Linked DNA regions of Homo sapiens: region 1 is linked to region 2. Evidence: fine-mapped expression QTL. A gene starts in region 2. The other region holds a variant in brackets. All regions are shown on one strand. Distances are between the middles of the regions.

The links. PIP is the estimated chance that this variant, and not a neighbour inherited with it, causes the effect.
Region 1: its variant is fine-mapped to the expression of MROH8 in anterior cingulate cortex (GTEx, PIP above 0.99). The same link has a PIP of 0.9 or more in amygdala and cerebral cortex.

The regions. Positions count from the first base shown.
Region 1 is chr20:37,237,412-37,242,778 of GRCh38, reverse strand. RPN2 (ribophorin II) reads right to left here. Exons shown (of 17, transcript NM_002951.5): 17 at 1,160-1,476. The coding sequence ends at 1,464. Among named protein-coding and RNA genes, the nearest start is that of GHRH, 22 kb to the left of the region's middle. The variant G/A (reference allele first, on the strand shown) is at 2,963.
Region 2 is chr20:37,176,541-37,181,898 of GRCh38, reverse strand. It overlaps MROH8 (maestro heat like repeat family member 8), which reads left to right and starts at 2,351. Exons shown (of 25, transcript NM_152503.8): 1 at 2,351-2,510; 2 at 2,512-2,676. The coding sequence starts at 2,419. It overlaps RPN2 (ribophorin II), which reads right to left and starts at 2,569. Exons shown (of 17, transcript NM_002951.5): 1 at 2,530-2,569. The coding sequence starts at 2,542. RefSeq lists a silencer at 2,294-2,343 and enhancers at 1,894-2,451, 2,464-2,513, 2,864-2,943, 2,452-3,011.

The DNA of each region.
Region 1 (5,367 bases), 61 kb before region 2:
TTTTTGCCATTCTAGAACTAGAGGCAATGGGCCAAGGCACATAACCGTAGGTCAATCAGGAAAGATGCCAAGTGCTAAGCTGCGTCAGCATTCAACTCCTTTAATCCTATGAGGTAGGTAGTTATCATCTCTCTTTTACAGAAACACAAAAGGAGGTTTACGGAGGTTAAACTACTTGCCCAAGGTCCCTCACCCTAGTAAGTGGCAACACTAGGTTTGCCTGGAACCAAAGTCTACGCAGTCAACCATGCTATGCAGTATTACTTCTCTCTGTGCTATTATATAACCTCATGTAATGGGCACAACTTCAGAGGGGGCATTCTTGAGATGTGGCCTTCTAGACTAAAGTCACTCAAGTGGTCAGTGCTATGGTTTGAATTTGTGTCCCTTGAAAATTCATGTTGCAACAAATCTCCATGCAAGTCTTTTTTTTTTTTTTTTTTTTTGGAGATGGAGTCTGGCTCTGTGGCCCAGGCTGGAGTGCAATGGCTCACCGCAACCTCCGCCTCCCAAGTTCAAGCTGTTCTCCTGCCTCAGCCTCCCAAGTAGCTGGGATTACAGGCATGCACCACCATGCCCACCCCTTGGCTAATTTTGGTTTTTTAGTAGAGACAGGGTTTCACCATGTTGGCCAGGCTGGTCTCAAAACTCCTGACTTCAAGTGATCCCCCTGCCTCGGCCTTCCAAAGTGCTGGGATTACGGACGTGAGCCTCCATGCCTGGCCCCAAGACAAGAGCCTTGAGCAGAGGTCCTAGCTGCAGTCCACCTGCACATTCCTGTTGTTTAGCTGTGTTCTTGCCAAGTCACACTCAGTATCTAACCTAACACAGAAAGATTCTCAAAAATGGGACTCAGCTCACAGAAAATGTTAAAGGGGATAAAAACCTATCCCCTTGGACCCCTAGAGGTCCAAATGGGGCCTTCAGATACCAACAGGGCTCCTATGCAGACAGCTGGTGCTCACTGCTGGAGAAGAAAAAAGGAAGCTGGCCTTTCCAGGCAGTTCTCAGTTCTGTTAGGAGCAAGGGGCAAGAAGGACCAAGAAAGGCCTGGAGAAATATGCTGGCATCAACAGCATTTCCAACTAAGTCCTCATGTCATATACCCAAGGACCCCACCACCCAAAAGTATGAGAATAAGCTCTCAATCAGGCCTTTGTTCCTATTGTTACCCTCTTTATTCCAAAACAATTACACATTTCAACTTTTCAAAAGCAACATCTGGGTAAGTTAGGAATATTCACAGCTTCTTACACAGTGTCAGAGAAAGAGACTATCTGAGCTCACCAGGTATCTGCTGTGTGTTGGGGAAACTGAAAAACAAGCAAAAGTATAACTACAATCTGGACTTTTTTCTTTTTTAAATAAAGTTTTTTTTTTCCATTTTTCTTCTCATACTGTGAATTGTTCTTGACTCCTTTTCTTGACATTCAGTTTTCAGAATTTCCATCTTTCTTCTGGAACTAATGTGCTGTTCTGAAAGAAAATGGAGACAAACACAGAATTACTGAAGGTTTCAGTTCACAGTTACAGTTCCTAACTGGTGACAACAGAGAGACTAAGGTACTCTCCCGCTCTAAGATCCCATTTATAAGGGAATAATCATTTATCTCCCAAGTCTATTTATGTATGCCCCATCTCATTTTACAAAAGAATGTGAGACAGCTAGTTCATAATTAAGCTGATGACAACTTAAATACAAATAACAAAACAAACTCAATAATAACTAAGAAAGTGGTATGTGACAACATAAGGAGATGAGGTAATTCCAGGCACACCTCTCACAGTGCAAGGCCAAAAACACAGTGTAAATTTCAATTAGATGAACAAAGAGCAAAGTTTAAATAATGCTCATCATCAATCTCCCAGACTCCAGCTCTGCCAACCAACACTTGGCCCTTCTGTAGCTTAGAACATGACATCCTGACCATTCATTACAGAAACCTGCACATTCCTGCCGTGTGGCCGTGTTCTTGCCAAGTCACACTCAGCATCTAACCTAACACAGAAAGATTCTCAAAAATGGGACTCAGCTCACAGAAAGTGTTAAAGGGGATAAGAACCTATCTCCTGTACTCTTTGTTTCCCCTCCGCTGCCTTTCCCTAGACTCTAAGGAGGGATGGGGAAGCACAATGAATGAAAATGACAATCTAGACAGACTGTGAAGCTGAGGAGGTGACTGCAGTGAGTAACTGATCCCAGCAGGCTCCAGCAAGCAGAGGCAGGGTTGCTGACACACACACACCATCCTTCAGTGGCAGCTCTTCCCAGGGGTGAGGACTAAGGTGATAATGATCCAGTCTTGCAGAATGGCAGACTCCAAACCCATTAATAAAGCAGTTCCAAAAGACATGCACAGGCATGGAATTAATCTTGAGGGCTGGGGTGTGCACCCCTAATTCCTTGCCAGTATTCAGAGGTTCTTAGGTACACTAATATGTGGGCATTCAGAAATGTTCATGCAGAAAGGATGGCATGAGTATGAAATAAGAACAGCCGAAGGGTAGTGGCCCACAACTCTTGACTGCGGCTAGAACTTACGTCCCACATTATGTCTGCTCAAATCAATGTCTGCCCTCAGATCAAGAACACTTTGCTACCAGGGGGTTTCCTTTCAAATGCTAGGAAATGCCAAATGTCCAAATGATCAAGTGACTTTCCTCTTCCTCAAGCAATGATTTGGGGATAGCAGGGTGGGAACGGACTTTAAAACTCAAGAGACTGAGTAAGGTGGCTCACGTCTATAATCCCAGCACTTTTAGGGGCCAAAGCAGGAGGATTGCTTGAGCCCAGGAGCTTGAGACCAGCTTGGGCAACATAATGAGACCCCATCTCTATAAAAAAAGTTCTTTTTAATCAAGAAAAGAAATCGACTTATTTAAAGAATTAAAGAACTCAACATGTAGCAGCAAGGACAGTTGCTGAAAGCAAATCTCAGACAGAGTGACTATAATGTAGGAT[G/A]AAACCAAACGGGCATAGCCAGGGAGTGGGGGTGGGAGAAGGGTCGGACTCTAAAAGGGGCACCGGGGAGCTCTCTGGAGAGTGGCAATACCTATATCTTGACTGAGGTGGTGGCTACATGACTACAGAGGTTTTTCAGGATTCACAGAATTGTACACTAAAAAGGGTACATTTTTCTGCAGATAAATTACAACTCCATTAAACCTGGAAACAAACAAACAAACAAACAAACAAACAAACAAATGCAGTTCCCTTCTGTGTTGAGGACTAGGTGACCCAGCTTATGCTCACACATCCATGGAAAGGCTCCAAATACTATGCTTTTGTTGATCTCTCCTATTTTCAGAGGATTAGAAATTAGATGGTTTTGTGGCTTTGGCAGGGAAAGCCATTTCCAAGGCAAAGGATAAAGGAGAACATGACTTGAAAATTCAAATACCTCCCCTCCCTTTGTTGGTCTAGGGCAGGGGTCAGCAAACTGTGCCACTCAGGCCAAATCCAGCCCACCACCTGTCTTGGTGAATAAAGTTTTGTTGGAACACAGCCACACCCATTTGTTTATACAGTCTATGGCTGCTTTCACATGACAGTGACAGAGTTGAGTAGTTGGTGCCAAGAGACCATATGGCCAGTTAAGCCTAAAATACTGTCTGGCTCTTTACAGAAAACTTTTGCCAGACCCTGGTCTAGCGGAGCAGATCAGTGAAGCATCAGACTCTCCTTCTCCTTCCCTCCACTTCCCTCCCATCCTAGGACTGATATGCAGAAGGAGAATGAGTGGAATCTCACTTCACATTTTAGTCACATGGGGAGCAGCCCTTTTAACATACCCTGAGTGCTAGGAACCTGGATTCTGATGCTGGCTTTGATCTGTGGCCATCAGTCCTTCATAAATTACAGTCTCCCCAGACCACAATGTTTAGCCCAACTAGAGATCGGTGTTACAGAAAAGTCTAGAAACAGTGACAAGGTGTGCCAGGATTTGCCATGGGACCGTCATTTAATGAATTTTGGATTTGTCTTATCCTCATCTCAGCTGTCCTGGAAACAGAGAGAGAGGCTTGTCTATAAATAAGTAAGTACCCCACGGGATATAAGGGAGAATGAAGTCTTATACAGTCAAAGCCAGGCCAAAGCTGCTCACTGCAAAGTTATCCCATCAGCTGGGCTAACTCAGGAAGCTTTTGCCCTGGTCCAGTCACAACCTCATCTAGCAAGTTGAAAAGCAGCCTCAGAATTCAGCTGTGGCTTAGGGAGGGGTGGGAGGAGCAAGTGGGCTGAAAACTAGAGAGATAACTGACATGCATGAGGCGGGCAAGACGGGGAAGGGACCCTGCTTCTGGGATGAGTCCGCCCTTCATCTTTACCGTAGTGTCCTATATTTTGCCAATCTACTGCTCTGCTCTGCAGCGATCCTGCCAAAGGAAAGAGGGTTTGAGAATCAAGAAAGGACAGTGAGGGGAGAAATCAGCTGAGGAAAGAAATGACAAACACCCAACCAGAGCTTCCATTAGGGTCACTGATTTTTCCAGGGTAGAGTTCATTCTAGGACTCACAAAGAGGGCCACAGAAGAGTGGGCTTTAAGTTTTTGAATCGAATACATGAGCAGGGGAGAGGGAGGAGTTACTGATCCTTCTGGGATTCTGATAAAAACCATAGTCTCTCTCCCCATAAAATGCATACAACTTTAGGATTCCAGATTAGGAACTCCTGCTAAGCAGAACATAAACCAAATGGTTTCTACTCAATTCTTGTCTTGATTTTTTTCTTAATTTTTATTAATTTTTTGAGAGACGAGGTCTCACTATGTTGCCCAGGCTGGTCTCCAACTCCTGAGCTCAAGCGATCCTCCCGCCTTAGCCTCCCAAAGTGCTGGGATTATAGGCATAAGCCACCATGGCGGGCAGATTTCATTCTTCTCGAGTGAGCAACTTCCAGAAAAGAGAGAACTTAGCAGAGCAGTCTTTTGGCTCCCTGGGGGCCCAGGCAGGTGCTGCAAGGGAACAGGGTTCTGCTTTGCAAAAGCAACTGAGTCCTGGCTCTTTCTCAGGTACAATGCAGAACCACCAGGAAAAGGCTACTGGAGGGTGGCAAAATGAACCAGCTGCCACTGCTGGTGCTAAGGGAAGCTCTGGTGGGCCCTGGATTCCTACAGGAAAGCCAAGGAACACGTCTGTGCCGAGTCTCCATGGTGAAATGCTCAGAAAGCTCACAATGGAGACTCGGGCGGAGATGAGACATCTTCTCCCACCCACTGATGGTCTCCCTGAAAAAGCCTCTCTCTGATCCCAGCACCCTAACTGGCAGCCACGTTGAGGGTACACTATTGAGTTACATTCTTCCAGCAAACGTCCTGGATAGAAGAAAGCGGCACATCTGAAAACGATTTCCAGAGGTGAAAGCA
Region 2 (5,358 bases):
TTACAAAGTAAGTGCTATGGAAAAAAATAAAGTACAGAAGAGATATTTGGGAAGGGCTGCATTTTAAATACGGTAGTCTATGAAGGACTAAGAAATAAACATATTGAGTACAGATCTGAAGAAGAAGCAAGTCATAAAGATATCTGGTGGGAAACTATGCTAAGAAGAAAAACCCAATATGGCCAGGCGCAGTGGCTCACACCTCTAACCCCAGCACTTTGGGAGGCCAAGGCAGGGGGATCACCTGAGGTCGGGAGTTCAAGACAAACCTGGCCAACATGGTGAAACCCCATGTCTACTAAAAATACAAAACATGAGCCGCACATGGTGACTTGGCCTGTAATCCCAGCTACTAGGGAGGCTGAAGCACGAGAATCACTTGATCTGGGAAGCAGAGTGGGCAGTGAGCTGAGATCGTGCCACTGCACTCCAGCCTGGGGCTCTGTCTCAAAAAAAAAAAAAAAAAAGAAAAGAAAAACCAAATGCAAACATTCTGAATCAGGAGTATGTACACATACAGTGTTTTTTGAGATCAGCAAGGACAGTACAGCTTGAGTGGAATAAGCAAAGGGTAAGAAGTAGATGAGGTAACAGAGGTAGCAGAGGACAAATCCAGAGGGCCTTGTATACCACCGTAGTGGAAGCCACTGGAAAGTTCTTTTTTTTTTTTTTAGACAGAGTCTCGCTCTGTTGCCAGGCTGGAGTGCAGTGGCGCGATCTCGGCTCACTGCAGCCTCCGCCTCCCGGGTTCAAGCGATTCTCCTGCCTCAGCCTCCCAAGTAGCTAGGACTACAGGCACGTGCCACCATGCCCAGCTAATTTTTGTCTTTTTAGTAGAGACGGGGTTTCACCATGTTGGCCAGGATGGTCTTGATCTCTTGACCTCGTGATCCGCCCGCCTCAGCCTCCCAAAGTGCTGGGATTACAGGCGTGAGCTACCGCACCCGGCTGGAGACCACTGGAAAGTTCTAAGCAGAGGAGTGATTTGACTTACACTCTAATGGTATTACTGTGTTGAGAATAAACAATACTGTGTGGAGAACAGACCATGCAGGTGCAAGGACAGAGCAGGGGACACCAGTTGGGAGACTACCGCCATAATCCAAGCCAGAAGATGATGGTGGCCCAAACCAGGGCAACAGCAGTGAACATGATGAGAAGTGATGAGAGTTAGTCTGGCTAGAATTCAAAGTCAAAGCCTATCAGAAACTGCTAATGGACAGAAAGACCTAAGAGAGAGCGGAGTCAAGATACTAATGCTGAATCCCCAATGCCTTGTGCACAGGCGGGTACCCAATATATGAAGATCTAGTGAATGGCTGCGACTAGCATTTTCCCACCTAGACCGTAAATTCCCCTAAAACAGCACCTGTGTCAGAATCCTAATCTTCTCACTCCATGTTAACGAGAGCAGTAACTTTTCTGACTAAAAGTTGAGCACTTAATATGTTAGGTATGCCCACGCTATGCTGTGCTTTGCACACACCAAATCATTAAATCCTCACAACATCTAAGCAAGGTGGCTATTTTCTGCATTTCACAGACCAGGAAAGTAAGGCTCAGAAGTAGTTACCTGCCCTAGGACACATCACTGAAAATCAAACTTCAGGCAATTTGAATCCAAAGTCTGCTTTTAACCACTTTACTATCCTGAACTTCTCAAATAATGAAACGGTGAGCCACTGACTCATTCATGTGTCACCCTGGGCAAGTAAGTTCCCTTCCGTGGGATTCCAACTTCTCATCTGTCAAATGGTAGTAACAAGAGTACATGCTTCCAAAGTTACGATGAGGCTACATGAAATTCCACCCTGCACAGCGTCTACTCAGTAACTTCCAATGCAGTTAACTTAGTTCTTACCTAGGGCCATGCACTGTTCTAAACTAAGCACGAAGATTATTTCACTTAATAAAGCAACTCAACGAGGCAGATAACGTGACTAATTTGACTAACTTATTTTACAGATGAGAAACTGAGGTGTAGAGGGGTTAAGTAACCTGCTTTGGGTTACACAATGAATACGTGGCCGACTGCAAGTTTGCACCTAGAGTGTCACTTGAGAACTTATGCTCCAGGCTCCCAGAGAGAAGTGAGGGTTTTCTTTGCCCCTTTCACTGAATGGGAAACTACAGCACAAAGAAGGACAATCTGCCCAAAACCTCACACGGAGTAAGGGGCAGCGCCGGGACCAGAACCTTAGGCCGCCTGGCCCAGAAGCCCGCGCGAGTGAAATGAATGAGGCCAGACCTAGGCTAAGCGCGTCCGCGGTCCCCACGGCTGAGCCTCGGGGCGACCCGTAGCTCCGCGCTGCACCCCTCCCCCAGGCACCAACCCCGCCAGGTCGCGGGCACTCCCACCAGCTCGCAGCCCTCCTTCGGACCCTCGATCCGAGAGCGCCCCAGCCAGAGCTTGTGCCCATGCCCCTGTCCCGCAGGGGAAGGGGATCCCGCCTGGCCGGCTCTCGAGCGGCGACTAGTAACCTCCCGCGGGCGACAGCCCTCTCCCCAAAGCCACGCGCAACTCCTCACCCGGCGGCGCCATTCCTCCGAGCAGGTCCCGCCGGAGTCCGAGCCGCGGGCTGACTTCCGCTCGGGAAAGTGGCTCCAAGAGCCCGCCACAGGGGACGCCAGGGACTCGCGGCAGGCTCTGCGGGCCAGGATGAGTTCTAAGCACAGGTCAGTGTCCGCGGCCCCGCTGAGCTTCGACGCTTCCAGCAGCCGCGGCCGGGATCCCAGTCCTCCCGCTCACAGGGCCTTGCAGTTCCCGAGGACAGACCCGCCTCTCCCCCGCGCCCAGGCCCACTTGGAACCGACCGTCTCGCAACGCTCCTATTCCGGGAGCTACCGGGACGCGGTTGGGCCAGGCCTCGGGGTGGGCCCGAGACGGGGCCGCTTCTGATTGGCCTGTCTGCTGTCACTCACTCGTCTTTCTGCTGCCCGGCCCATTTTAAAGGAACAGGAAGGGTCTCGTCGGGAGGGGATAGCTTAGAAGGGATTTTTTTTTCCTCTTTAGAAAATTGTGGCAGTTTCTGGCCGGGCGCAGTGGCTCACGCCTGTAATCCCAGAACTTTGGGAGGCCGAGGCGGGCGGATTACCTGAGGTGAGGAGTTCGAGATCAGCCTGGGCAACACGGTGAAACCCCGTCTCTACTAAAAATACAAAATTAGCCGGGCGTGGTCACACATGCCTGTAATCCCAGCTACTCGGGAGCCTGAGGCAGGAGAATCGCTTGGACCTGGGAGGCGGAGGATGCGGTGAGCCAAGATCGCGCCATTGCACTCCAGCCTGGGCAACGAGTAAATCTCCGTCTCACCAAAAAAAAAAGAAAAAGAAAATTATGTCAGTTTTTTCCAAAGATTATCAGTGGGGTTGTTAATAACTGACCTACGAGTGACGTTTTATCTGATTTGCAGAGCAATGCAGTGACTCATAGAGAACATATTAGGCCAGTTTTACAGGCTCAACATGGAGGTGGCTCATCCAGGAACACCGCTCTAATAACTAGCGCCAACTACTGAATGTTTACAGTATAACCCGACACTGTGCCGAACGCTCTACAAGCATTATTTCTTTTCTTTCCTTTTTTATTGATACGGGATCTTGCTCTGTCGCCCAGGCTGGAGTGCAGTGGTGCGATCACAGCTTACTGCAGCCTCGACATCCTGGGCTCAAGCAATCTTCCCTCCCGCCTCAGCCTCCGGAGTAGCTGGGACTGCTGCCTTGCGACACCACGCCCAGCTAATCTTTAAAATTATTTTTGGTAGATACCGCGTCTCGCTTTGTTGCCCAGGCTGGTCTGGAACTCGGGCTCAAAGGATCCTTCGGCCTTAGCCTCCCAAAGTGCTGAGATTACAGGCTAATCCCATTTTAAAGAGAAGGAAACAGATTTGAACCTAGGCAGCTGACTCCAGAATCTGTGCTTTTAACTACAGTTTTATGAACATATAAAGTATGCACAATATAACTCTTATTAACGTTATTATTGTCCCAAATGTTATCCCGCATGGGAGAGAGTCAGTTCTTTCTGTGTCTGTTATGATAGCCACTAGCCTTATGTGGATATTTAAATTTGAATTTAAATGGATTAAAATTAAGTAAAATTTAAAATTCAGTCTCTCATTTGTACTAGCCACATTTCAAGTGCTCAGTAGCCACAGATAACTAGTGGATATCAGATTGGACCACTCAAAATTATAGGACATCTTCATTATTGCAGAAAGTTCCATTGGGCAGTGCTGATGTAGAATATATAAAGAATTCTCCCAGCTCAAGAATAAGACAACCAACCAGTGGTGTGCTGGAGCTGTCTCATACTATCTTGAGAGTCCATTGTTAAATTTGCAGTAATTTTGCAAATTGGTTAAATACAGCCATTTAGAAAATTATATCAATTTAGGATGAAATAAAGTATATTGAAAACAAAACTCATTATTTTCTAATTATTTCACTACATTTTACGTTTTGTGTGCTTTTGTGGTTGCTTATATCTGTTGTAACTGTGTGGTGGAAATATATGACAGTATGCCATTGAACATCTCTTCCCAAGGTAGTATTGGTAGCTTGATTTTGGCCATGATGGGAGTATTTACACCACAGACTTAGCATATGCAGCCAGGAATGGTGGCTCAGTCTGTAATCCCAGAGCTTTTGGGAGGCTGAGGTAGGAGGATCACTTGAGTCCAGGAATTCGAGACCCACCTGGGCAACACAGCAAGACCTGCCTCTACAAAAAAAAAATTTTGATTAGCCAGGTGTGGTGGCTCGCATCTGTGGTCCTAGTGACTAGCTGTGGACCACAGATGGGAGCCACCACACCTGACTAATGAAAAAGAAAAAGACCAACAATAGCAAATGTTGGCAAGGATGTGGAGCAACAGGATCTCTCATATCCTGCTGATGGAAATGTAAAGTGGTACGACCATTTTGGAAACAGATTGACAGCTTCTTCGTTGTTTGTTTGTTTGTTTTGAGACAAAGTCTCCCTCTGTCACCCAGGCTGGAGTGCAATGGCACAATCTCAGTTCACTGCAACTTCCATCTCCTGGGTTCAAGCGATTCTCGTGTCTCAGCCTCCCGAGTAGCTGGGATTACAGGCGCGCGCCACACTGCCTGGCTGAATTTTTTTGTATTTTTAGTAGAGACGGGGTTTCACCATGTTGGCCAGGCTGGTCTCAAACTCCTGACCTCAAGTGATCCACTCACCTCAGCCTCCCAAAGTGCTGGGATTACAGGCGTGAGCCACTGGCGGTGGTTGTTTTTTACGAGGCAAGGTCTCCATCTGTCGCTCAGGCTGGAATACAGTGATGGAATCATAGCTCACTGCCGCCTTCACCTCCTGGACTCTAGGACCCTCTTGCC